Homo sapiens: one gene and its partners. The protein of the gene in region 1 purifies or fractionates together with the protein of each later gene. This does not show direct contact. Each region holds a gene or a part of one and is shown in the gene's direction. Other genes may lie near its edges.

Region 1 (3,500 bases):
TGTTATGTGTGAATTTGATCCTGTCACTAGGATGTTCACTGGTTATTTTGCTCGTTAGTTGATGCAGTTTCTTCCTAGCCTCAATGGTCTTTACAATTTGGCATGTTTTTGCAGTGGCTGATACTGGTTGTTCCATTCCATGTTTAGTGCTTCCTTCAGGAGCTCTTGTAAGGCAGGCCTGGTGGTGACAAAATCTCTCAGCATTTGCTTGTTTGTAAAGGATTTTATTTCTCCTTCACTTATGAAGCTTAGTTTGGCTGGATATGAAATTCTGGGTTGAAAATTCTTTTCTTCAAGAACGTTGAATATTGACCCCCACTCTCTTCTGGCTTGTAGAGTTTCTGCTGAGAGATCAGCTGTTAGTCTGATGGGCTTCCCTTTGTGGGTAACCCGACCTTTCTCTCTGGCTGCCCTTAACATTTTTTCCTTCATTTCAACTTTGGTGAATCTGACAATTATGTGTCTTGGAGTTGCTCTTCTCGAGGAGTATCTTTGTGGCGTTCTCTGTATTTCCTGAATTTGAATGTTGTCCTCCCTTGCTAGATTGGGGAAGTTCTCCTGGATAATATCCTGCAGAGTGTTTTCCAGCTTGGTTCCATTCTCCCCGTCACTTTCAGGTACACCAATCAGACGTAGATTTGGTCTTTTCACATAGTCCCATATTTCTTGGAAGCTTTGTTCGTTTCTTTTTACTCTTTTTTCTCTTAACTTCTCTTCTCACTTCATTTCATTCATCTGATCTTCAATCACTGATAACCTTTCTTCCAGTTGATCGAATTGGCTACTGAAGCTTGTGCATTCGTCACGTAGTTCTCATGCCATGGTTTTCAGCTCCATCAGGTCATTTAAGGACTTCTCTATGCTGGTTATTCTAGTTAGCCATTTGTCTAATCTTTTTTCAAGGTTTTTAGGTTCTTTGTGATGGGTTCGAACTTCCTCTTTTAGCTTGGAGAAGTTTGATCATCTGAAGCCTTCTTCTCTCAACTCGTCAAAGTCATTCTCCGTCCAGCTTTGTTCTGTTGCTGGCAAGGAGCTATGTTCCTTTGGAGGGGGAGAGGCGCTCTGATTTTTAGAATTTTCAGCTTTTCTGCTCTGTTTTTTCCCCATCTTTGTGGTTTTATCTACCTTTGGTCTTTGGTGATGGTGATGTGCAGATGGGGTTTTGGTGTGGATGTCCTTTCTGTTTGTTAGTTTTCCTTCTAACAGTCAGGACCGCCAGCTGCAGGTCTGTTGGAGTTTGCTGGACGTCCACGCCAGACCCTGTTTGCCTGGGTATCACAGTGGAGGCTGTAGAACAGCGAATATTGCTGAACAGCAAATGTTGCTGCCTGATCATTCCTCTGGAAGCTTCATCTCAGAGGGGTACCCGGCCATGTGGGGTGTCAGTCTGCCCCTACTTGGGGGTGCCTCCCAGTTAGGCTACTCGGGGGTCAGGGACTCACTTGAGGAGGCAGTCTCTCCGTTCTCAGATCTCAAACTCTGTGCTGGGAGAACCACTGGTCTCTTCAAAGCTGTCAGACAGGGACATTGAAGTCTGCAGAGATTTCTGCTGCCTTTTGTTCGGCTATGCCATGCCCCCAGAGGTGGAGTCTACAGAGGCAGGCAGGCAGGCCTCCTTGAGCTGCAGTGGGCTCCACCTAGTTCGAGCTTCCCGGCTGCTTTATTTACCTACTGAAGCCTCAGCAATGGTGGGCTCCCCTCCCCTAGCCTCACTGCCACCTTGCAGTTCGATCTCAGACTGCTGTGCTAGCAATGAGCAAGGCTCCATGGGCGTGGGACCCTCCGAGCTAGGCACAGGATATAATCTCCTGGTGTGCCGTTTGCTAAGACCATTGGAAAAACGCAGTATTAGGGTGGGAGTGACCCAATTTTCCAGGTGCCGTCTGTCACAGCTTCCCTTGGCTAGGAAAGGGAATTCCCTGACCCCTTGCCTTCCCGGGTGAGGCCATGCCTTGCCCTGCTTCAGCTCATGCTCAGTGGGCTGCACCCACCGTCCTACACCCACTGTCCAACAAGCCCCAGTGAGATGAACCTGGTACCTCAGTTGGAAGTGCAGAAATCACCTGTCTTCTGCGTCGCTCACGCTGGGAGCTGTAGACTGGAGCTGTTCCTATTCGGCCATCTTGGAACCCAACCCAAGTCTGGCATTTTTTGGTTTTCTCTGTGTATTGACTATGATTATAGAGGATAAATGGATATTGATATTATTAAATCGTCATTTACAGAAGGCACACAACTTATATCCTTTAAACAAAGTTCTCCAACCAGTAGGGTATACTTGCTGGTAGTGCTTACAGCTGCCACCATTCTTCACTGGGGCTCAGAGTGGATGCCTGGAGGAAAAAAACAAATGAATCTTTTAGCTCCTAGTTACTGTTAGCATTTTTACCAGAAAACAATTTAAAAAATGACACAAGTAAGTCTTCACCTATCAAGGCTGAGTGTGGTGGCCTATACTTGTAATCTCTGTGCTTTGGGAGGCCAACGCAGGAGGATCTCTTGAGTCCAGGAGTTTGAGACCAGCCTGGGCAACAAAGCAAGACCCCATCTCTACAGAAAGTTAAAATTTAGCTGGGCATGCTGGCACATCCCTATAGTCCCAGCTACTTGAGAGGCTGAGTTGGGAGGATCCCTTGAGGTCATGAGTTGGAGTCTACAGTGAGCTGTGATTACAGTGTGAGTCTACACTGCACTCCAGTCTGGGTGAAAGAGATCCTGTCTCTCAAAAAACAAGTGATTCTCCTGGGAAGAGATTTGTTTAAAAAGTCTGCACCTCTATTGATGATAACTTTGAATGTAAATGGATTAAATTCTCCCACTTAAAAGATATAGATTGACTGAATGGATTAAAAACCACCATCATGACTCGACTGTATGCTGCCTACAAGAAACCTCACCTGTAAAGACAGGCCAAAAGTGAAGGTATGGAGAAAGATATTGCATACAAATGGAAGCCAAAAAAGAGCAGAAATAACTATACTTACATGAGATAAAATAGACTTTAAGTCAAAAACTGTAAAAAGAAAAGTCATTATGTAATGAAACAAGGATCAATTCATGCAAGATATAATCATATTTTTTTATTAAGAAAATTTTTTTGTAGAGATGGGGTTATGCTATGTTGCCTGGCTAGTCTCAAACTCTGGGTCTCAAAGCAGTCCTCCTGCTTTGGCCTCCTAAGGTGCTGGGATTATAGGCATGAGCCACTGTGCCAGGCCTGAGGATATTATCATTATAAATATATATGTACCCCACACTGGATGACCCAGATATAAAGCAAATATTATTAGATTTAAAGGGAGAAATAGACTCTAATACAATAGTAGTTGAGGACTTCACTCTACTCTCAGCATTGGACAGATTTTCTAGACATAAAACCAATAAATATTGGATTTAAATTGCACTTTACACCAAATGGACCTGACATTTACAGAACATTCTAATAGGTGCAGAACACTCTAATAGCTGCAGAACACACGTTCTTTTCATCAGCACATGGA
Region 2 (3,500 bases), on another chromosome or scaffold:
GCAAAAATTAGCCAGGCATGGTGGTGTGTCCTGTAATCCCAGCTTCTCAGGAGGCTGAGGCAGAAGAATGGCTTGAACCCAGGAGGCAGAGGTTGCAGTGAGCCGAGATAGCGCTGCTGCACTCCAGCCTGGGCAACAGAGCGAGGCTCTTGTCTCAAAAAAAAAATAAAGATAGAAAATGGTTAATTTGGCCGGGCATGGTGGCTCACACCTGTAATCCCAGCACTTTGGGAGGCCGAGGCGAGGTGTTCACGAAGTCAAGAGATCGAGACCATCCTGGCCAACCAACATGGTGAAACCCCATCTCTACTAAAAATACAAAAATTAGCTGGGCATAGTGGCGCATACCTGTAGTCCCAGCTACTCAGGAGGCTGAGGCAGGAGAATCGCTTGAACCCGGGAGGTGGACGTTGTAGTGAGCTGAGATCGCGCCACTGCACTCCAGCCTGGGCGACGAGCGAGACTCTGTCTCAGAAAAAAATGATAGAGAGAGAAAGAGAGAATGGTTGATTTAAAAAGCATGCAGTTTATATAGAATAAATAAAATTGTTAATTTATGTTATATCGATCTTACTTCAATGTAAAAAACCAAGGGCTCACTCCTGTAATCTAGCACTTTGGGAGCCTGAGGCAGAAGGACCACTTAAGCTCAGGAGTTCAAGACCAGCCTGGGCAACAAAATAAGACCTCGTCTGTACTAAAAAATAAAAAAGATTAACTGGGTGTGGTGGCGCTTGCCTATAATCCCAGCTACTCAGCAGGCTGAGTTGGGAGGATCGCTGGAGCCCAGGAGGTCAAAGCTGCAGTAACCAGAGATCACACCCCTGCACTCCTAGGTGATAGAGTGAGACCCTGTCTCAAAAATAATAATAATAAAAAAATAACCCCCAGGCCGGGCGCTGTGGCTTACGCCTGTAATCCTGGCACTTTGGGAGGCCGAGGCGAGCGGATCACCTGAGGTTGGGAGTTCAAGACCAGCCTGACCAGCATGGAGAAAACCCCGTCCCTACTAAAAATACAAAATTAGCTGGATGTAGCGGCACGCACCTGTAATCCTAGCTACTCGGGAGGCTGAGGCAGTCGAATCGCTTGAACCCAAGAGGCAGAGGTTGCGGTGAGCCAAGATCGCTCCATTGCACTTGAACCTGGGCAACAAGAGCAAAACTCCGTCTCAAAAAAGTAAATAAAAATAGGACCAGGCGCGGGGGCTCACGCCTGTAATCCCAGCACTTTGGGAGGCCGACGTGGGCAGATCGCGAGGTCAAGAGATCGAGCCCATCCTGGCTAACACGGTGAAACCCTGTCTCTACTTAAAAGAAAAAAATTATCCGGGCGTGGTGGTGGGCACCTGTAGTCCCAGCTACTCAGGAGGCTGAGGCAGGAGAATGGTGTGAACCCGGAAGGCAGAGCTTGCAGTGAGCTGAGATCGCGCCACTGCACTCCAGCCTGGGTGACAGAGCGAGACTCTGTCTCTAAATAAATAAATTAATAAATAAAACCCCCAAAATGCACAGCTATCATGGCTTAGTTGAGGGTGCAGGCTGGTCAGGCTGCTTTTCCAGTGCCAGGTGTGAGCTTTCTCTTCTCATTCTTTAAATTAGGGGTCGCTGTGATGAAATTCAAGAACCCCCCAGTGAACAGCCTGAGCCTGGAGTTTCTGACGGAGCTGGTCATCAGCCTGGAGAAGCTGGAGAATGACAAGAGCTTCCGCGGTGTCATTCTGACCTCGGTAGGTGCTAGTTCAGCTCCCTACCCCAGCCCGAGTTCTTGGCCTGAGTTCTCTGATGTGAGCCCAGGCCTGTTGCACATGGAAGAGGCAGAGCCTGCCAACGTGTGGCACAGGCCAGCCGGCAGCCCCACCACCCTGGACTCCAGGCGCCTTCACGGGAGGCTTCCAGGAGCACCGTCTGGGTGTGCCCCAGCAGGGACCCAAACTGCCATGGGCCTCAAGCAGATCATTCCCAAAGGTGAAGGTGGACCAGTCTCAGAGACAGCCTTCCCAGGAGACAGCTTTCCCAAGAGACGCCCTTCCCGGGAGACAGCCTTCCCAAGAGGCAGCCCTCCTGGGAGACCGCCTTCCTGGGAGACAGCCTTCCCTGCCCGGGCCGTCGTCCAGGCGGACACTGGGGAGAGCTGTGGGCAGCGAGTGAGGGAGAGCCATGCATCTATGGGGTCACCTTGGACCCTAAGCACACCTGGTGGTGGGTTCCTGGAGTGCTCCCCACTAGGATCACTTGGGTGCCCTGAGCCAGTCCTGCGAACAATACCCATGCTCTCTGATCCTCTGTGGGCCAGTCTTCAGGGCGAGTTCTCAAGGGTGAACCTCTTTGGTCTGAGTTCTTGTGCAGGGGACTCTAAATGTTGCCTGAGTGCTGGCGAACGCTAGGCGTGTCATCTGTGGGAACGGTGTCATTACCAACATCGCCGAGGGGCAGTAAGCAGTGTCAGGCCCAGGAGGATGGGACCCTTGAGGAGAAGCGGGCATTGGCTGAGGTGAGGGGAGTGAGGGGTCCTCGGAGGCTGGCGTGGCTTTACAGGGCCTGGCCTAGAACTCCTGACCTCAAGTGATCTGCCCACCTCGGCCTCCCAAAGTGCTGGCCACGTCCAGCCTTATATATTTATTGAGACAGAATCTCCCTCTCTTGCCCAGGCTGGAGTACAGTGACGTGATCTTGGCTTACTACAACCTCCGCCTCCTGGGTTCAAGCGATTCTTGAATCTTGAAAATTTTTAAAATTTTTGGGAGAGACAGTGCCTTTATTGCCCACGTTGGTCTTGAACTCCTGGGCTCAAGCACTCCTCCCACCTCGGCTCCCCAGTGTGCTAGGATTACAGGTGCGAGCCATTGCACCTGGTTAATTTTTTTGCTTAATTTTTACTTTTTTGTACAGGCGGGGTCTTGCTATGTTGCCCAGGCTGGTCTTGAACTCCTGGCCTCAAGCAGTTCTCCAATCTTGGCCTCCCAAAGCTCTGGGATTACAGGCATGAGCCACCACGCCAGGCCTGGGTTTTGAGTAACGGAAGTAGAACGCGTTTTGTAGAAACAAAGGACCGGCCTACCCATTCTGTGCGGCACCAGCTCACACCTGTTTGGGAACAGCGGAGCTGCGTTGCCCACCCGCACCGTTCCTGGCTTTTTCACATCGCCTGAGGATGTGGAGGCCATCCCATCTGTCCCAGCCGCCTCCTCCTCGCACACATTAGGTGGCTGTCGCCCTCCTTCCTGCAGACAGGGCGGGGTAAACATCCACCCAGCTCTGCTTGTGTGAGTCAGGGTGAGCTGGGTTCAGCTGCAGGAACAAGTTCACCCACAGCCTTGGGGGGTCTGGCCCTCGGGAGGAAAACGTGCCGTGTTGTGCAGAGGGGAAGGTACCCTTGTCATTTGCTCAGGGGGCTGTGACCATGCAGGGTCCCCAGGGTGGGTTCTCCACTCCTCCCCGAGCCCGCCTCCCTGGCCGGCAGCCCTGACTGGGAGTCTGAGGCTCCTGTGCTGGCGCCCG
Region 3 (3,258 bases), on another chromosome or scaffold:
TCATTTTCACAACAGACCAAATATTTGCATTTTAGGGCCTTTGTGCTTAAGATACCCTCTGCTTAGACTGTTCTGCCTCCAGATCTTTGAATGGCTGGCTCCTTATTATTCAGGTCTCAGCTCAAATGTTACCTCCTAAGGGAAGCCTTTCCTACCACTGAGCCTAAAGTATGTATCTTTCTTGTAGATATCTCTTGTATCTGATGTAACAATAATGAGAATAGAATATTTGAGTGCTGTGTCACTTTAGTATACATTTTGTTATTTTTACATCAGCTTTTTGAAATAGGTGCTGTTATTTTTGAGGTGAAGAAACTGAATGAAGCACAAAGAACCAATGAATGGTTAAGGTAGTAAGTGGTAGATATGAATTGAAGGCCCTTTGGCTCCAGAGCCCAAGCTCTTCTGTGTCACCTTTTCTATTAAGCTTTTCCTGACTTTTCTTCAACTGATAAAGAAACAGATTTAAGGCGTTTTTAAGATCTAAAAGCTTCCCCTCAACAATTGCTATCCTATTAGCATGTAGTTTTTGCCTTGGAAGCAAATTTACTTGGCTTGTTATTTTAAAGGGTGCTGGAGAAATGGTAAATGAAGCTGCTCTTGCTTTGGAATATGGAGCATCCTGTGAAGATATAGCTAGAGTCTGTCATGCACATCCGGTAATTATTAACAACATATAGAATTGATGGTTGCCTAAATTTTCTTCTGACCCACAAATATTTGGATTTTAATTTTAAATTTCTTCCCTTGCAGACCTTATCAGAAGCTTTTAGAGAAGCAAATCTTGCTGCGTCATTTGGCAAATCAATCAACTTTTGAATTAGAAGATTATATATATTTTTTTCTGAAATTTCCTGGGAGCTTTTGTAGAAGTCACATTCCTGAACAGGATATTCTCACAGCTCCAAGAATTTCTAGGACTGAATTATGAAACTTTTGGAAGGTATTTAATAGGTTTGGACAAAATGGAATACTCTTATATCTATATTTTACATAAATTTAGTATTTTGTTTCAGTGCACTAATGTGTAAGACAAAAAGCTACTTATTGTAGCATCCTGGAATATCTCCGTCAACTCATATTTTCATGCTGTTCATGAAAGATTCAATGCCCCTGAATTTAAATAGCTTTTTTCTCTGATACAGAAAAGTTGAATTTTACATGGCTGGAGCTAGAATTTGATATGTGAACAGTTGTGTTTGAAGCACAGTGATCAAGTTATTTTTAATTTGGTTTTCACATTGGAAACAAGTCAGTCATTCAGATATGATTCAAATGTCTATAAACCGAACTGATGTAAGTAAACGGTCTCTCACTTGTTTTATTTAACCTCTAAATTCTTTCATTTTAGGGGTAGCATTTGTGTTGAAGAGGTTTTAAAGCTTCCATTGTTGTCTGCAACTCTGAAGGGTAATTATATAGTTACCCAAATTAAGAGAGTCTATTTACGGAACTCAAATACGTGGGCATTCAAATGTATTACAGTGGGGAATGAAGATACTGAAATAAACGTCTTAAATATTCATTTACTGGTTATCATGAGTACGTGTTGAGATGGTCATAGTTTTTTTTATGACTACTTCTAGTGTATATTCTAATTTCTTTTCTAGGCCTGAATGTATCTTTATTTTCATGTTATAGGACAATATTAAGGCATTTTAAAGGTCATCATCCTTTCATCTATTTTAGATACACCTACTAAATGTTTAATATATACTTTTGGAGAAGTACAACATAAGGGAGTCTTTAATCTGTGTTTTCCTTGGCTGGGTTAATGACTGTTTATTTAAAGAGTGTTGTAAAATTGGATGTGTGGTGTTTAAAATGGCCATGTCCTGAGGAAACTTAAGTAACAAAGTACTAAATGCTAAGTAGGCTTTTGCATATTGTAACTAAATTTAAGAATAATTCAGATTAAGTAGTTCTGAAATTTGGTATAGATAGCATAGATTGTCTCATGCTCATGAGTGACATAATGACCCTGGATTCTGTTACATACTTCTAAAGAAAATTGATTGTTGTCTTAGGAGGCAGTTAACTTGGCTGAACACCAACTCCACACTCTGTCTTGTTTGTAGGTGGCAGCAGCTGAAATCTCTTCTCAGTTGTTTTAGCTTTAGCTATGCTGCTGGAAGTCTTTCCCATGCAAGTGTGTAGTTCAGGGGTCAACCAGAGTTTGGGCAGAAGGAAGTCTGCCCCTTCTGTGCCTCCTGTTTTTTGGGGGTTTCCCCTTTATGTTCCAGCTGTTGTGGTTGCCCCATATTCTGCCTTCTGATCCTTAACCAATAAAACTTGGCTTTTGTTTCCCCCTCAAGTGAGAACCCGTTAAAAATGAGACATTGAGCCAGTGCTGTTCACTTTTTAAGTGCCAACTTCCCTCTACTTTCCACTTGTTTATAGTTGTTTCCAGTGCCTTTAGTTTTTTCTAAAATATATTTGTTCAGAGTTTGCAGTTGCTATCAGCAGGAGGGTTGGTCTGATATCTGTGTGCTACTTTGCCATTATTGGAAGTGAACTCTGCATCTTTTTAAAAATTTGAAATCCCGGTATCATGTGAAGTGCTGTTTATGTAAATCTCAACATATCCCTTACTCAGGGAAAAAAAAGTTTTTAGTTAGGGAATAGTGAAATATAATTTAATATGGAATTCTAGCTGTAGAGTTAAATCCATCTTTAAGTGTTTACATTCAGTATGAGAATGCAAATTTATCTGTATGGGGAATAAAGTCCTAGGAATAAAACAAGTTTTAAGTGTTCACTTACTGTTATCTACTAAGCTGTCAATATTTTTGTGGCTTGTGAAGAGTGAAATTAATTGTCCACTTCATTGAACTGATTAAAATTAGTAATTTCAACTGGCTGGGAGCGGTGGCTCACTCCTGTAATCCCAGCACTTTGGGAGGCCGGGGCGGGCAGATCACCTGCGGTCAGGAGTTTGAGACCAACCTGACCAATGTGGTAAAACCCCATCTCTACTAAAAATATAAAAATTAGCCAGGTGTGGTGGCAGGCCCCTGTAATCCCAACTACTCAGGAGGCTGAGGCAGAATCACTTGAACCCAGGAGGCGGTGAGCTGAGATCATGCCACTGCATTCTAGCCTGGCGACAGAGCGAAACTCCGTCTCAAAAAAAAAAAAAAAGTAATTTCAAAGTGAGATCTTTAGTTGTTTAGCTGAAAAGGAATGGAGAGTGTTTCTACTGTTCTAAGTAAAATACTACATAATTGCTCTAGTAGATGATGGGGTATGACCATTTTT
Region 4 (3,500 bases), on another chromosome or scaffold:
TTCCGATCCCCTGTTTCCTTCTCTGACTGGAATCTGAAGCAAACACCCAATTTAGTACTTGAAGTTGGAGGAGTGGGTGTTGGGAGAAGGGGAAAAATTACCTTCCCTGGAGAGACAGAACTACATCACACCACAAACTAAATGAACCCCTTTATAACTTCTCACAGTAATATTAGAGGAAATTTCTGAACCTGAGCAAACACTCAGCATAGTTTTGTTATAAAGTAAACCCAAACCAAACACCCCAAACTGTCTAGTCATCTAGGAAAACTGGTGAAGTTTTTGGCTTTGAAAGTCTTGGCAAGAAAGGGCTTAGGCACAAACCATCACACTGCCTCTCTCATTATGTACTAATTAGAAATGGAACAAATTATTTTACAAGATAAACAAATGTTTATGAAGGGACTCAGAGGAAGCTGGAGGGCCAAAGTTCCCCTGGGATTTCTTCCTCCTAAGATTCTCTCTCCCCCATTCCTCTTGTCCCCATCCTAAGTACACACACATACACCACAATGCTTTCAGTCAGTCCTCTGAGTAGGGACTTACGTGGCATTGCTGAAACCCATGTATTCATTCCCAGCCATTTTGTTGAGATACTGCAACACCTGGAAGAGAAAAAGGGACATTGAGGCTCCACTTGGTTAAGAAGCTCTATTAATACCTCACAGGTTGACTAGCCCTTCTGAACTCAGGTCTTGTCAAGAGGCTTTCCTCTCTGAGGCCAGCAGATTTCCACATTTCTGGAAATAAGGCTTCTAGTATGGGCTGGTGCACCTGGTAGTGGGGTTAGAGAGCCACTGGGGCAGCTGGAGAGGACAGCATGCCATGGCGAAATGCAGCCAGGGGCTAAGTAGCAAGGGAACTTACAAAATCAAACTTCTCTGCTTTGTTACAGTCCATCTGCAGAGAAAGAGAGAGATGTCAGCATTCTAAGTGTAGGAGGATGACAGAGGGAAGGGTCAGAAGGATCTAGTGGAGTTCTAGTGTTAGTCTGGTCCTGCTGCTGCAAATGTGTTCAATTTTATAATGGCCCTTTTTTTATCCTTCTGAAAACACCGCACTTCCATTGGCTCCTCTCTTTCTCTTTCTTTTTTTTGAGACAGTCTTGCTTTGTCACCCTTGTCACCCAGGCTGGAGTGCAGTGGCACGATCATGGCTCACTGCAGCTTTGACCTCCCAGGCTCAAGCGATCCTCCCACTTCAGCCTCCAAGTAGCTCGGATTACAGGCATGAGCCAGCTTGCTGGGCCATCCCACTTCCATTCTCAATCCAAACCCTCATCCCTGACTCCCACGTTCATTTTCCTGACTCGAATCCTGTCTCCTAGCCCCACCCTATCCCTGATCTCCATCCCCATTCCTTACACCCCATGCTGGAGCTTTACTCCATCCCATTGGCCAGCATGATGGTTCATGCCTGTAATCTCAGCAATTTGGGGGGCTGAGGCAGGAGGATCGCTTGAGACCAGGGGTTTGAGACCAGCCTAGGCAACATAGGAGAGACCCTGCCTCAATTTTTTTTTTTTTTTTTTTTTGAGATGGAGTCTTGCTCTGTCGCCCAGGCTGGAGTGCAGTGGCAGGATCTCGGCTCAACTGCAAGCTCCGCCTCCCGGGTTCATACCATTCTCCTGCCTTAGCCTCCCGAGCAGCTGGGACCACAGGTGCCCACCACCAAGCCTGGCTAATTTTTTGTATTTTTAGTAGAGACGGGGTTTCACCGTGCTAGCCAGGATGGTCTCGATCTCCTGACCTCGTGATTTGCCCACCTCGGCCTCCCAAAGTGTTGGGATTACAGGCGTGAGCCACCGCGCCTGGCCTCTATATTTTTTAAAAAAGGTCCTACTTAGATGGGAATGGGATGAGGCAGGTCCCAGATACAGGTTTGTAGATGGAGCCATCACAGAACAAGGGGAGAGACTCAGCCTCTTTTCCTCACCCAGACTCATTGCTTACTCATGTGTCAACTACAGAGTCAATACCACAGGGACTCTGATACCTGAGTCCCTGAGGGGAGGATTCCTAACACCACCTTCCCCAGGAGGGGCTGTGATTGGCTCCAGGGTGTTGCTGCCCAGCTGCTCCCAGGTTCTTGCTCAAGCCCTGGGAGACCTACAGCTGATGGGCTAGTCTGACACCCTGTTCAAGGCCAACTCACAGTTCCAGGTGACGTGAATAACTGCCCTGGCCTGGCCATTCACCCTTGCCTGCAGGTGTCCCACACCCAGAAGTGGCCAATCAGTGCCCAATAGTGCTGTCCTCCCCTTGTCTCTGGCATTTGGCCCTTGGTCCTAGGCAGGGGTCAGGACCTGCTCACTTCTCTAAGGGTCAGAAAGCTCTAGGCTCTAGACTCATGGGTGGGGGCAGGGAACAGTACTGAGTGGGGATGACGGAGGTGGTGCAGTCTCTTATACTGACATTGTCAGCATAACATGTGGGTCCCTGCTGTGCCTCATGTGCCTTCTGGGGACCCTCAAAGGAATCAGAGCCCCACCAGTCTCCCTGGAGAGCTGAACAAATATGAGGGATACAGGAACACAGGAGCTTAGAGGATAATACCTATCAGAAGGTTAAGGTGGCACTGACCTTGATCAGGGAGCTGACAACAATGGCACCAGCATTGACCATGGGGTTATGGGGGATTCCTGGGGAAATACAAACCACCAAGAGTCTTAGCCACTGAACAAAGCCTCCCTGACAGCCCGCTCACTTTGTGGGTTAGACAAGAAAGACTGCTAGGGAGAAAGGCATGACAGGGCTAATCAGGAAGGGCAGAGAAACAAAAAAGGCTGGGAGATGGGGTGGGGATAAGGAGAAGGGGACAGCTGTAAGTACGGTCTGAGCCTTGGTAGTGCTCACCTTCCTCATTGAGGGAGAGCTTGTTGTAGCGCAGGCCACTTGGCTCTTTGCCCACAAACTTGTGCACGTAGTCAGTGCCTAGGGTGCTTATGGAGATGGCATAGGTGAGGGGCTTCACACAGGACTGCAGGCAGAAGGGGATCTTTGTGTGGCCCACAGAGTGCCTGGAGGCAGACAGATGCCATGAAAGGGGTTGGCCTGTGTTCGGCACCTGTGCCCTGCCTCCCCTTCCTCTTGCCCAGCATCTCACCGTTGACCATCCACAGTGCACAGGGAGACACCCCACAGGTCTGGGTTTGACTTGGCCAGCTGAGGGATGTAGGCTGCCACCTGGACATGAGTGGGTAGAGAAAAGGGAGATGGATGTGGAGAAGAGGAACAGAGTTGAGGTTGAGGGTCAAGAGAATCTTTTAGATAAAAGCTAAAATTCTGTCTTCTATAGGGCAGAGGGGTTCCCTCCTGCCTGTTGCTCCCAGAAATGCCCGAGCCTTAAGTCCTAGAAGGCCATATCTTTGTGTATCCGCAATCCTGTAGAGATAGCAGTAAAGCCAATGGAAGTTAAAAAAGGAGAATTCTGAGGCAACCTTCCCCTTTTGGTTCTTAGGCTCAGTTACCCTATAAATCCCTTTGAAGGCTCTATTCGAT
Region 5 (3,500 bases), on another chromosome or scaffold:
AGCCCAGGAGCTCGAGACCAGCCTGGGCAACATGACGAAACCCCATCTCTACTAAAAAAAAATTCAAAAATTGGCCAGGCATGGTGACGCATGCCTGTAGTCCCAACTATTCTGGAGGCTGAGGTGGAAGGATTGCTTGAGCCTGGGAGGTCAAGGCTGCAGTGAGCCATGGTTGTGCCACTGCATTTCAGCCTGGGTGACAGAGTAAGACCCTGTCTCAAAAAAAAAAAAAGAAGAAGAAAATGCTCCTTAAATTCCCCTCCAAGGTTGGGCACAGTGGCTCACACTTGTAATCCCAGCACTTCGGGAGGCTGAGGCAGGCAGATCACTTGAGTCCAAGAGTTCAAGACCAGCCTGGGCAACATGGTGAAACCCCGTCTCTATAAAATATACAAAAAATTAGCTGGGTGCGGTGGTGCCTGCCTGTTGTCCCAGCTACTTGGAAGGCTGAGGTGGGAGGATCACTTGAGCCTGGGAGGTCGAGGCTGCAGTTAGCTGATATCATGCTACTGCACTCCAACCTGAGAGACACAGCAAGAGCAAGGAGCAAGACCCTGTAAAAAAACAAAAACAGAAACGAAAACAAAAACAAAAAAAACCCTTCCAGGCAAGCCAAGGTCTCTGGGTTGTGCCTCTAGGTTATTTTATTTAAATATTTAAATTTAAATTTATTTAAATATTCTAAATTGCAGAGACAGAGTCCCACTTTGTTGCCCAGCATGGTCTCAAACTCTTGGCCTCAAGCAATCCTCCTGTCTTAGCCACCCAAAGTACTAGGATTACAGATTTGAGCCCGCACATCTGGCCTCCATTCTTCCTGGCAAAACATGCAACGCTCTCAGCAGATCTTAATCCAACAGATCTTAATCGTTGCTGATGGTGCTTAATGCATTATGTGTGTTAGTTTCTTTTGTTGCGAGCACAGTTGGTAGCCTCACGTTTCAGTACAGACCTGCAACAATTAATACATGAGATCCACTCCTGAGAAAGCACTTTCTACTTGTCTGGACTGAATATCGGTTTGGTTGGAAAGATGAAGCCCCGACTACCCCAGAGCATCTCTGAGATTTTGTTCTGTTCTATTGTTTCAGAGCAAGGAAAGAGGGCAGAGGGGCTTCTCCCAGGAGGAGCTGGAGACGTGCATGATTAACCAGGTGAGTGCAGCTGGGCTTGCACCACGTACATCTGGGGAAGCTGCACAGCCTCTCCCGGGCTGTTGCTGGCTGGCTGGCACTGTCCTCAATTAGGAAGGGCCAGGCCAGGCGCGGTGGCTCATGCCTGTAATCCCAGCACTTTGGGAGGCCAAGGCAGGCGGATCACCCAAGGTCAGGAGTTCAAGACCAGCCTGGCTAATATGGTGAAACCCCATCTCTACTAAAAAGACAAAAATTACCCGGGCATAGTGGCACATGCATGTAATCCCAGCTACTTGGGAGGCTGAGGCAGGAGAATCATTTGAACCCAGGAGGTGGAGGTTGCAGTGAGCCGAGATCACACCACTACACTCCAGCCTGGGTGACAGAGTGAGACTCCTCTCAAAACAAACAAAAAAACAAAAACAAAAACAAAAGGCCGGCTGCTGTGGTTCACGCCTGTAATCCCAGCACTTTGGGAGGCCGAGGCGGGTGGATCTCCCGAGGTCAGGAGTTCCAGACCAGCCTGGCCAATATGGCGAAACCCTGTCTCTACTAAAAATACAAAAATTAGCCAGATGTGGTGGCGGGTACCTGTAATTCCAGCTACTCGGGAGGCTGAGGCAGGAGAATCGCTTGAACCCGACGGGCGCGGAGGTTGCAGTAGGCCGAGATCTCACCACTGCACTCCAGCCTGGCGACAGAGCAAGACTCCATCTCAAAAACAAAACAAAACAAAAAAAGTACAAGAGGGTTTCTGGAATCTGTGGGAGGAGTTCTTAGGGTTTTTCCCAGAGGTCTCAGGGAATTGGTGCTCAACCAGCCTGAGACAATGCCAACCTCCTTGAGACTTGGGGGCCCCCACAGTTCCCTCTGAGGCACCTCCAGCAGTTCTGCCTGAATCAGCTGGAAACATGTTTGGATTCCCTTGCTGGGTGAAGAGTCAGAAAACAATGCAAGGAGTTGCAGCTGTGCCATTTGCTTGGGGCTGGAAAGGGACAGGGCGTCCATGCACCCCTCCTGAACCCAAGGCGCAGCTGCCATGGGAGAGTGCCCGGAGAGGGGCTCCCCTCACCCGCTTTCTAGCACCACAGACCCCTTCCAAAGGCCTGGGGGTTTTCCTGCAAGGTGCCCAGCTCGGCCCCTTGCCTTGGTCACCCTGGGATGCAGGCGTGCACCCATCAGCACCTGACCCGCCTGACACCTGAGGAGGCCTGAGTAGTAGGGAGCCAGGGGATGGGGAGGAAGTTGAAGAGCCTGTAGAAAAGGGGCTGAAAACCCAGGAGTCCCCAGCAGCTGGAGGTAGGCGGGCAGTGGGTACTGCTTGGCCACTTACAGCTGCCACAGGAGGAAAATGGGTCCAAACAGTGCAGCACTGGTGAGAAGCCAGAAGTTCAGGTCTCTATGTGAAATTTCTTAGTTTTAAATTTTGCAACTTGTTTTGAGACAGAGTCTCGCTCTTGTTGACCAGGCTGGGGTGCAGTGGCGCGAACTCGGCTCACTGCAACCTCTGTCTCCCGGGTTCAAGCGATTCTCCTGTCTCAGCCTCCCAAGTAGCTAGGATTACAGGCCCCCACCACCATGCCTGTCTAATTTTTGTATTTTTAGTAGAGACGGGGTTTCACCATGTTGGCCAGGCTGATCCCAAACTCCTGACCTCCGATGATCCGCCTGCCTCAGCCTTCCAAAGTGCTGGGATTACAGGTGTGAGCCACCACACCCAGCCTAAAATTTGTGACTTAAAAAAAAAAAAATGTAAGTATGTATGCAAATAAAACGTGTGTCTTGGATATAGACCCCATTGGTCCCATGGGTAACTTTTGCCTGAGAAGGATTCCTGGTTCTTCTGATAGATTTCTGTGTCCCTCTGGACTTGCAGGGGCAACAATACAGTTCCCCCATCCTTACAACTATGACTAATGACTGATATTTCTTGGTTTTAGGCCCCTGGCTGCCCCGACTACAGCATCCTCTCCTTCATGGGCGCGTTCCATGGGAGGACCATGGGTAAGGAGGGACCATTGCGCTCCCAAGGTGGCGTTTAGAATAGTAATAATAACGGCAACAATAGCGGCGGCTGACATTAGCAGTTTACACATATTGTCCCACTGATTGCACACAATCCCACTGCAGAGTGGGGATTATTATTCCTGCTTTGCAGATGGGGGAATCAGTGTTCAGGAAGAGGAAGAATTTCCAAGGCTATTCAGTGACAGAGCCGGGACTGGAACTCTTGACTCTGTCTTCAAAGCCTGCGCTGCATCTGTGATTAATCGCAATGCAAACACATACCCACGCACGCATGCCAATTAAGGGTTCGAGAGTCCCCCTTCAGCTTCCGGATGAGAACTGGGGTTCAGTATCAAA
Region 6 (3,500 bases), on another chromosome or scaffold:
GAGCCACCATGTCCGGCCCCTGTAGCCTCATTCTTAAGTTATAATTCCATTATGTTCTGGCTTTCCCATGCTGTTCACTTTCAACCCCACATCTGTCCCACCTCACACTTAACCCTCTCTTTGTGGGTCGCAGTAGTAATTTTCATTCATTTTTATTTTTTTTAACCTTTCAGGAAAATGATGAAGAAGCCAAGAAGATTGCAAAAGAAGGACAGTTGATGGCTAGGGACCTACTACAGCCACACAGGCTTTACTGCTACTATTACCAAGTACTGCAGGTCAGTTCAGAGTGTCCGTCCACACTGCTGGGTCGGGTGTCCTCAGACTACCCGCTTGGCCTGTACACTTCCTGCCTGGCTTCCTGAAGGACTCACAGTCAAGCCTATGGACCACTGGCTAAGCCAAGGCACTTGCCTAGGGAAAGATAGTGCTAAGTCTTCATTTGGTGGCCCCCTTTTTTTTGTTTTTTGTTTGTTTGTTTGTTTTGAGATGAAGTCTCACTCTGTCATGCAGGCTGGAGTGCAGTGTCTCAATCTCAGCTCACTGCAGCCTCTGCCTTCCAGGTTCAAGCAATTCTGCCTCAGACTCCCAAGTAGCTGGGATTACAGGTACACGCCACCATGCCCAGCTAATTTTTGTATTTTTAGTAGAAACGGAGTTTCGCCATGTTGGCCAGGCTGGTCTTGAACTCCTGGCCTCAGGTGATCTGCCTTGCCTTGGCCTCCTGAAGTGCTGGGATACAGGTGTGAGCCACCACGCCCAGCCGTGGCCTCCATATTTTCATCTTTATTCCATATTATGTAAAACGACGCTGGGAGCCCTCACAAATATAGATTAGCAACTCCTCCCATCTTCTCAGTGCTCTCTTTTATTAAATGCTTTATTGAATTCCTAGTGTAGGTGTTCTGGAACCTCAGAGAAAAACATTTTTTCTTATTTGGAAAACAAGATGGTTGGACTGGAGATCATTAACATCCCTTTTTACTCAAAATGTCGCCTCCTTATTCTCCTTGATACTTAAGATTCATGCCTTTTATAGTACAAGGCAGAATGCAAATATTTAGCTTGCTGTAGCAAACAAACTAATGAGAAATATGTATAACAGTTCTAACACCTTAGGGCTGAATCCTGAAGTATAGTGTTTATTGGGAATCCGAGGATTGGTCTTTTGAGTAACTACCTTGAGTTTTACTCAGAAAAATCTAGACAGGAAGAATAAAAAAAGGAAATTATGTTCTTGTTTTTAACCTAAATTTATTTTTCTGTAGGCATAGTAAAAGTAAATTTCCCTAGATGCTTGTGGATACTACCCTCTCATATTTTCATTTTCATAGAAAAATAAAAATGATAAGTTACACTATTTACTAGAAGCAGCCCTTCCTTCCCTTAAATTGGTCTGTCCCCTCTGTTGGTCTAGCTTTAATCGTTAAACAGTTTTTTTAACAATTTCTTGGCCGGGTGCAGTGGCTCACACCTGTAATCCCAGCACTTTGGGAGGTCGAGGAGGGTGGATCACCTGAGGTCAGGAGTTCAAGACCAGCCTGGCCATCATGGTCAAACCCCGTCTCTACTAAAAATACAAAATTAGCCAGGTGTGGTGGCACATGCCTGTAATCTCAACTACTCAGGAGGCTGAGGCAGGAGAATCGCTTGAACCTGGGAGGCAGAGGTTGCAGTGAGCCTAGATTGCACCACTGCACTCCAGCCTGGGCAACAAGAGCAAAATGCATCTAAAAATATATATATTTCTTACTCGGTCACCTAGGCTGGAGTGCAGTGGCATGATCACAGCTTACTGCAGCCTCAACCTCCTAGGATCAAGCGATTCTTCCCCCCTCCCACCTCAGCCTCCCACTAGTAGCTGGGACTACACCACCACACTCAGCTAATTTATTTATTTTTTTTAGAAACAAGCTCTTGCCGTGTTTCCCTGGTTCCTCAAGTGATTCTCCAGCCTCAGCCTCCCAAATAGTTTCAATTTTAATGTTAGGAATTTCTCTCTCTAAAATATTAATTAGGCTTATCTACTGTGTCAACATTTTGTTGCATTTGGTCCAGTACCAGGAATATACAGCAAAAGGGACATGGAATCATTGAATTGAAATATCCAATTTATGTCTGGGCAGGGTGGCTCATGCCTGTAGTCCCAGCACTTTGGGAGGCTGAGGTAGGCAGATTGCTTGAGTCCAGGAGTTGAAGACCAGGCTGTGCAACATGGTGAAACGCCATCTCTACAAAAAATGAAAAAAATTAGCTGGGCATGGTGGTACGCGCCTGTAGTCCCAGCTACTTAGGAGACTGAGGTGTAAGGATCACTTGAGCCTAGGATGTTGGAGGCTGCAGTGAGCCAAGATCACGCCACTGCACTCCAGCCTCAGTGACAGAGTAAGACCGTGTCTCAAAAAAAAAAAAAAACAAAAACAAAAAAAACTCCATTTATAGAAATATTTCACTCAGGGCCACAGTGGAGGAACATTACACAGACCTGTTGCCATTCAAAAATGCGTGTGACTATAGGCCTAAAAGAAAGAATGTGTGAGACTGCCAACTTTTCAGATGGTTATCTTGTTTGTTTGCTGGCTTGAGTATTCAACAAAGTTAATTATTCAATAACAAGTGGAAAATAAATGCTGAGAGCTGCTGTTTGTTTCAGGTAGGGACGTCTGGCTTGGCATCCCTTTTGTAGAGGCTTCCAACCAACACATAAAATTGTGGATTGGGGTTTCTTGCTAGATTATGAATTATAACTAGTGCCTGTGATAGCTAAAGTTAAAATGTAACTTTAGGACTGGAATAAACCAGACCTTTGGTTTTAGTCTGCAGACACACAGCAACTAGAAAAGATGGCGTGACTGCGGATGGGAGTGGGTGGGGGAGTCAACAGAATGCAGTGTGAACTAACCTTTCAGTTCCCTTTAAACCCACGTTTCAGAAATATGCCGAGCGCCAGTCCAGCAAACCCGAAGTACGTGATGGAATGGAACTTGTTCCTCAGCCAGAAGATAGCACAGCCATCTGCCAGTGCCACAGGAAAAAGCCTTCAAGAGAAGAACTTTGAGTCAGCCCAGAATCACACTCCTGTGTATCCCGGCTACACTTTAAGGAAAGATTGAATCTAAGCTGTGAAGGACAGTATAGAAGACTGCACCAAGTGGACTAGTTCTCCCGGTGGCTTTATATATGTAGATGGATATAGCAGTACTGGTTGAGTATCCCTCATCTGAAATGCTTAGGACCAGGAGTGTTTCAGGCTTCAGATTTTTTAAGATTTGGGAATATTTGCATGTACATAATGAGGTATCTTGGGGATGAGATCCAAGTCTAAACACAAAATTCATTTATATTTTATATATACCTTGTTCACATACCCTGAAGGTAATTTTATATAATATTTTTAATAATTTGTGCATGAAACAAAGTTTGTATACATTGAACTGTCAGAAAGCAAAGGTGTCACTATCTTAGCGACCCAAGTGGTGGTGTCAGCACTCAAAAAGTTT
Region 7 (3,500 bases), on another chromosome or scaffold:
TCTGATATTATTTCAAAATTTTTTATTACCATTTTATAAAAGATTTTTATAACTTAAAATGCATTTTCCTATGCTATATTGTATTTGGTGTTTCCCAAGCCTCCCCTGTACAAAGGCTACCTGTTAGACATTTTCAGTCAAATTTTAACATAGATTAGTTAGTAACTATATAGTCTGTAACTCTTCAGTGCCTTCCATTCCTCCTAGGTTATTGTTGTGGGTAATCCAGCCAATACCAACTGCCTGACTGCTTCCAAGTCAGCTCCATCCATCCCCAAGGAGAACTTCAGTTGCTTGACTCGTTTGGATCACAACCGAGCTAAAGCTCAAGTAAGAAAAATATATTTTAAATCTTGTGGTTGTTCAACTTTAAAACATTTTTCTCTCACTTTTAAAATAACTGAATCTGAGTTTGTGCTTTTTTCTTGTTTTTGTTTAGTAGGAACCTATTACTTTTATTAAATTAAAAGTAAATTATTATTCATTTGTTAGGGAGTCTTTAAATGTATTCTCTTAAAGGACCAGAGGCTGGACTTCCTACTTGATTTCGTCTTTAACTATATTTCAATTGCTAACTATAATGAAATGCAGTTACTAATGTTCTCTTGTTACAGTGGTTAAAAATTAGTTATACATGATGGTACATAATTTAGTTTAATTTTTTCAGATACATATAATCTCATATAAACAAAGACTTGAGCTTTGTGTGATTGTGTGGTTCTGCTTCTATTTTAGCTGCAGCTAAGCCATCAAATTCAGATTTTAATTTTTAATTTTATATTTAATTTTCATTTTATGTCTTTTTAATATTCTATGTGTATCTGTAAAATTTCCTCCTTTCACTACTTAGGAGCTAAAGTCTGTTGCTAATTTTCTTTACTCTTAGAGCCATAGATAAGTATGCCAAGGAGCCAGTGACCAGGGAATTAACAATAGCTTTTCAAAAAATTAGAAGCCAGGCAACTGATCTGAGCTAGTTTCCTAGGCTTTTTCAGATCTAACTGGTCCTGGTGCCCGTTCTTGGACAGAACCTCTTTCCTTTGCCCTAATGCTTTTCTGGCCATCCCTTCTTGTCTGTAGGTCATCACTGCTAGATAGGTCTATGAGTTCAGTGCTTTTTCTTCTAGAGAAGATAACTTTAGTTTCAAAAAAAAATTGTTGTTAACCAGAAGATGCTGTGAGGTCTAAGCTGAAGCACTACTGCCCTAACCTGAGAATTAATAATCCTTCAGCTCTGGAATGCCTAGTGAAAGAGAAAAGAATATACATTTGTTAAGCATCTACTGTAAATTGAATGCTATACATGTAATTTTCCATTTAATTTTTATAGTAACCATATGGGTATCTCATATTATCCCTGCATTAGGTAAGAAAACTGAGGCCCAGGGAAGTCAGAGAACCTGCTCAGAGTCATACAGCTCATAAATTACGGAGCCACCTTGATTTGCCTGACTCCAAACCCTTATGTATGTTCTTACCTAATGGTATCAACTAACCTTAGTCCACTTACTAGCTCTGTGATTTTGAGAAAGTATATTCAATGTTTAAAATGTAATAATTGTATCTACCTCAGAGAGTTCTTATGAGGATTAAATAAGATCTGTTTTAAGCCCTTAGCATGGTGCCTGCACATAGTAAATACAAGAAAGGTTGGCTGCTATTATTAGTTGATTTCTTCTTTCTAAGAAGCATACAGCCTAAACATTCCTAATTTAGAGGGTTGTTGGATAACAACCCTTAAATTTTTAGCTTAAAGTGCAAATATTCCCTGAGAGGCTATAGGCTGTGAGCTGGGTCTGGTGGTAGCTGAGAACGAATAGGAGTTTGTTTGAATGGCAGGCAGTTTGAGTTCTGTGGGACAGTTGTAAAGGAAGAGATATTATACATGTTACAGTTGCAAACTCTGGATTGCCAGAAAGTGACTTATTTAGTTCCTACAACAAGAAAGTTCCTACAACAATGACACTAACAACCACTTTTTGTTGTTTCACCTGAGGCTTTGGTGGAGACAGGCATTGGAAAATTCTGCTTCCAAAGGTACTTCAAAGAGATACTTTGTCCTGGTGCCTGAAACAGTTCTCACTGCAGGGCTCAAGTCTGAATGAGCAAAGAGGAAAGAAAGTGCTATCTCCTCAGACTTTAACCTTCACTTGGGGACATGTTCTTTGTTACTCCTGGGACCTTGGCTAGGCATTGTTTCAGCATGTCAATCTGGCATAGTGAGAGCTTTTAGGGAGTCATTGAAGAAGCACTTTCTTCCTCTAGAAGAAGTTGTTTATCCAGTGAGAAAAATAACAAACCCAAAGATAAGTTTTTCTTACAGGACTGGTTGCTAGATATTTTTGTCTTGGAATTCAGAGGCCTTAGCGACTTAGGGACTGTTTAACACCTGCAGAACTTGCCTGTGTATTTGCAAACCAGTGCTGTATTTATGTCTGCTGATAAGGTAATTTGACATTGATACCAGATAAGGTAATTTGACAATGATACCAGTTAGCTTGTAAGAAAATTACTAGGGCTGGAGAATTAATCAAAAACTTTTAACAGACCTATGTGACAGACATGAGTGTCTAAGGGAGCAAAGAGCTGTTATCCTGGGTATGTATTAATTTAGACTAATTGTGACATGAATCATATTAAGAAACTATATCTGCTGGATGCAAAGTACCTGGCCTTTGCTGTCCAGACAGAACTGGATTAGCTCAAGAGATAGAAGGAGCAAGAGGAGGAGGGCAACAAGAACAAAGGAAGGCATGGGAGCCAAGGAGGACTGAGGGTGGAGAGGCCTAGAGGCATTTTGTCTTCACTGTACTTGGGAGCATTGAAGCAGACATTCAGGGAAGTTATAGGCTCTAACTTCCTGGTAATATATATCTTGAGTTAATTGTTCAAGGTATAAATTTATCTTTTTCTATATACCATACCAGCTAAATTTAAGTATAAATATAAGAGCAGTTTCTTCCCCAGTTCTTTCTGGTCATGGCAGACGTAAAAAATGGTACTCATTGAACAGCGTGCCACTCTACCCTATCCCACAGGCTAAGCAGATCAATAGCTGGGTACCCCAGAAACCCAACTGTGAACTAATTTGTGGAGACTAATGCAAATATTGTAGATAATAGTCCTAATACTTGCAAGACTTGCAGGGATTAGATCGGTCAAAAGTGATTTACAATATCACAAACATAAATTTTTAAGTAAACTTTTAACTATTTTAGGATTTAAGAAAGCAGTCTCAACTAGTTTAAGAGTGGGAGTGAAAGTAAAGACAGTTTACTTCTTACTTAACTGAATAAATTAGTATGAAGACCAGTCGAGTCATTGCAGACATTTTAGGTAATGGCCTTTTTTTTCATCTTTATCCTTTTCGGTTGGTTGGTTGGGGTTTTTTTTTTTTTTTTTTTTTGCTTTTTATTTTGAAATAATTTTAGACTCAAAAGTCGCAAAAAAATAGTACAGAGAAGGCCCATGTACCCATCACCCATTGATGGTACCTTACA

Evidence for each region.
Region 2: the proteins of SOD2 (region 1) and ECI1 fractionate together in Homo sapiens (co-fractionation; one large-scale study listed by BioGRID). This does not show direct contact.
Region 3: the proteins of SOD2 (region 1) and DLD fractionate together in Homo sapiens (co-fractionation; one large-scale study listed by BioGRID). This does not show direct contact.
Region 4: the proteins of SOD2 (region 1) and SPRYD4 purify together in Homo sapiens (co-immunoprecipitation; one large-scale study listed by IntAct). This does not show direct contact.
Region 5: the proteins of SOD2 (region 1) and ABAT fractionate together in Homo sapiens (co-fractionation; 2 studies listed by BioGRID). This does not show direct contact.
Region 6: the proteins of SOD2 (region 1) and POGLUT3 fractionate together in Homo sapiens (co-fractionation; one large-scale study listed by BioGRID). This does not show direct contact.
Region 7: the proteins of SOD2 (region 1) and MDH1 fractionate together in Homo sapiens (co-fractionation; 2 studies listed by BioGRID). This does not show direct contact.

The regions. Positions count from the first base shown.
Region 1 is NC_000006.12:159,669,242-159,672,741, reverse strand, and holds part of SOD2 (superoxide dismutase [Mn], mitochondrial isoform A precursor), read left to right. Parts: 3' UTR 1-3,500. UniProt on the Homo sapiens protein: Destroys superoxide anion radicals which are normally produced within the cells and which are toxic to biological systems.
Region 2 is NC_000016.10:2,245,088-2,248,587, reverse strand, and holds part of ECI1 (enoyl-CoA delta isomerase 1, mitochondrial isoform 1 precursor), read left to right. Parts: intron 1-1,601; coding exon 1,602-1,729; intron 1,730-3,500. UniProt on the Homo sapiens protein: Key enzyme of fatty acid beta-oxidation. Able to isomerize both 3-cis (3Z) and 3-trans (3E) double bonds into the 2-trans (2E) form in a range of enoyl-CoA species, with a preference for (3Z)-enoyl-CoAs over (3E)-enoyl-CoAs.
Region 3 is NC_000007.14:107,918,441-107,921,698, forward strand, and holds the end of DLD (dihydrolipoyl dehydrogenase, mitochondrial isoform 1 precursor), read left to right. Parts: intron 1-569; coding exon 570-659; intron 660-753; coding exon 754-819; 3' UTR 820-2,758; downstream 2,759-3,258. UniProt on the Homo sapiens protein: Lipoamide dehydrogenase is a component of the glycine cleavage system as well as an E3 component of three alpha-ketoacid dehydrogenase complexes (pyruvate-, alpha-ketoglutarate-, and branched-chain amino acid-dehydrogenase complex).
Region 4 is NC_000012.12:56,475,078-56,478,577, forward strand, and holds part of SPRYD4 (SPRY domain-containing protein 4), read left to right. Parts: coding exon of another isoform or gene 1-106; 3' UTR 107-546; coding exon of another isoform or gene 547-605; 3' UTR 606-867; coding exon of another isoform or gene 868-900; 3' UTR 901-2,582; coding exon of another isoform or gene 2,583-2,641; 3' UTR 2,642-2,855; coding exon of another isoform or gene 2,856-3,019; 3' UTR 3,020-3,105; coding exon of another isoform or gene 3,106-3,185; 3' UTR 3,186-3,500. Other genes in the region: GLS2 (glutaminase liver isoform, mitochondrial isoform 1 precursor), read right to left, coding at 1-33, 547-605, 868-900, 2,583-2,641, 2,856-3,019, 3,106-3,185.
Region 5 is NC_000016.10:8,765,117-8,768,616, forward strand, and holds part of ABAT (4-aminobutyrate aminotransferase, mitochondrial isoform 1 precursor), read left to right. Parts: intron 1-1,091; coding exon 1,092-1,154; intron 1,155-3,076; coding exon 3,077-3,140; intron 3,141-3,500. UniProt on the Homo sapiens protein: Catalyzes the conversion of gamma-aminobutyrate and L-beta-aminoisobutyrate to succinate semialdehyde and methylmalonate semialdehyde, respectively. Can also convert delta-aminovalerate and beta-alanine.
Region 6 is NC_000011.10:108,474,385-108,477,884, reverse strand, and holds part of POGLUT3 (protein O-glucosyltransferase 3 isoform 1 precursor), read left to right. Parts: intron 1-173; coding exon 174-278; intron 279-2,932; coding exon 2,933-3,058; 3' UTR 3,059-3,500. UniProt on the Homo sapiens protein: Protein glucosyltransferase that catalyzes the transfer of glucose from UDP-glucose to a serine residue within the consensus sequence peptide C-X-N-T-X-G-S-F-X-C. Can also catalyze the transfer of xylose from UDP-xylose but less efficiently.
Region 7 is NC_000002.12:63,598,963-63,602,462, forward strand, and holds part of MDH1 (malate dehydrogenase, cytoplasmic), read left to right. Parts: intron 1-207; coding exon 208-330; intron 331-3,500. UniProt on the Homo sapiens protein: Catalyzes the reduction of aromatic alpha-keto acids in the presence of NADH. Plays essential roles in the malate-aspartate shuttle and the tricarboxylic acid cycle, important in mitochondrial NADH supply for oxidative phosphorylation.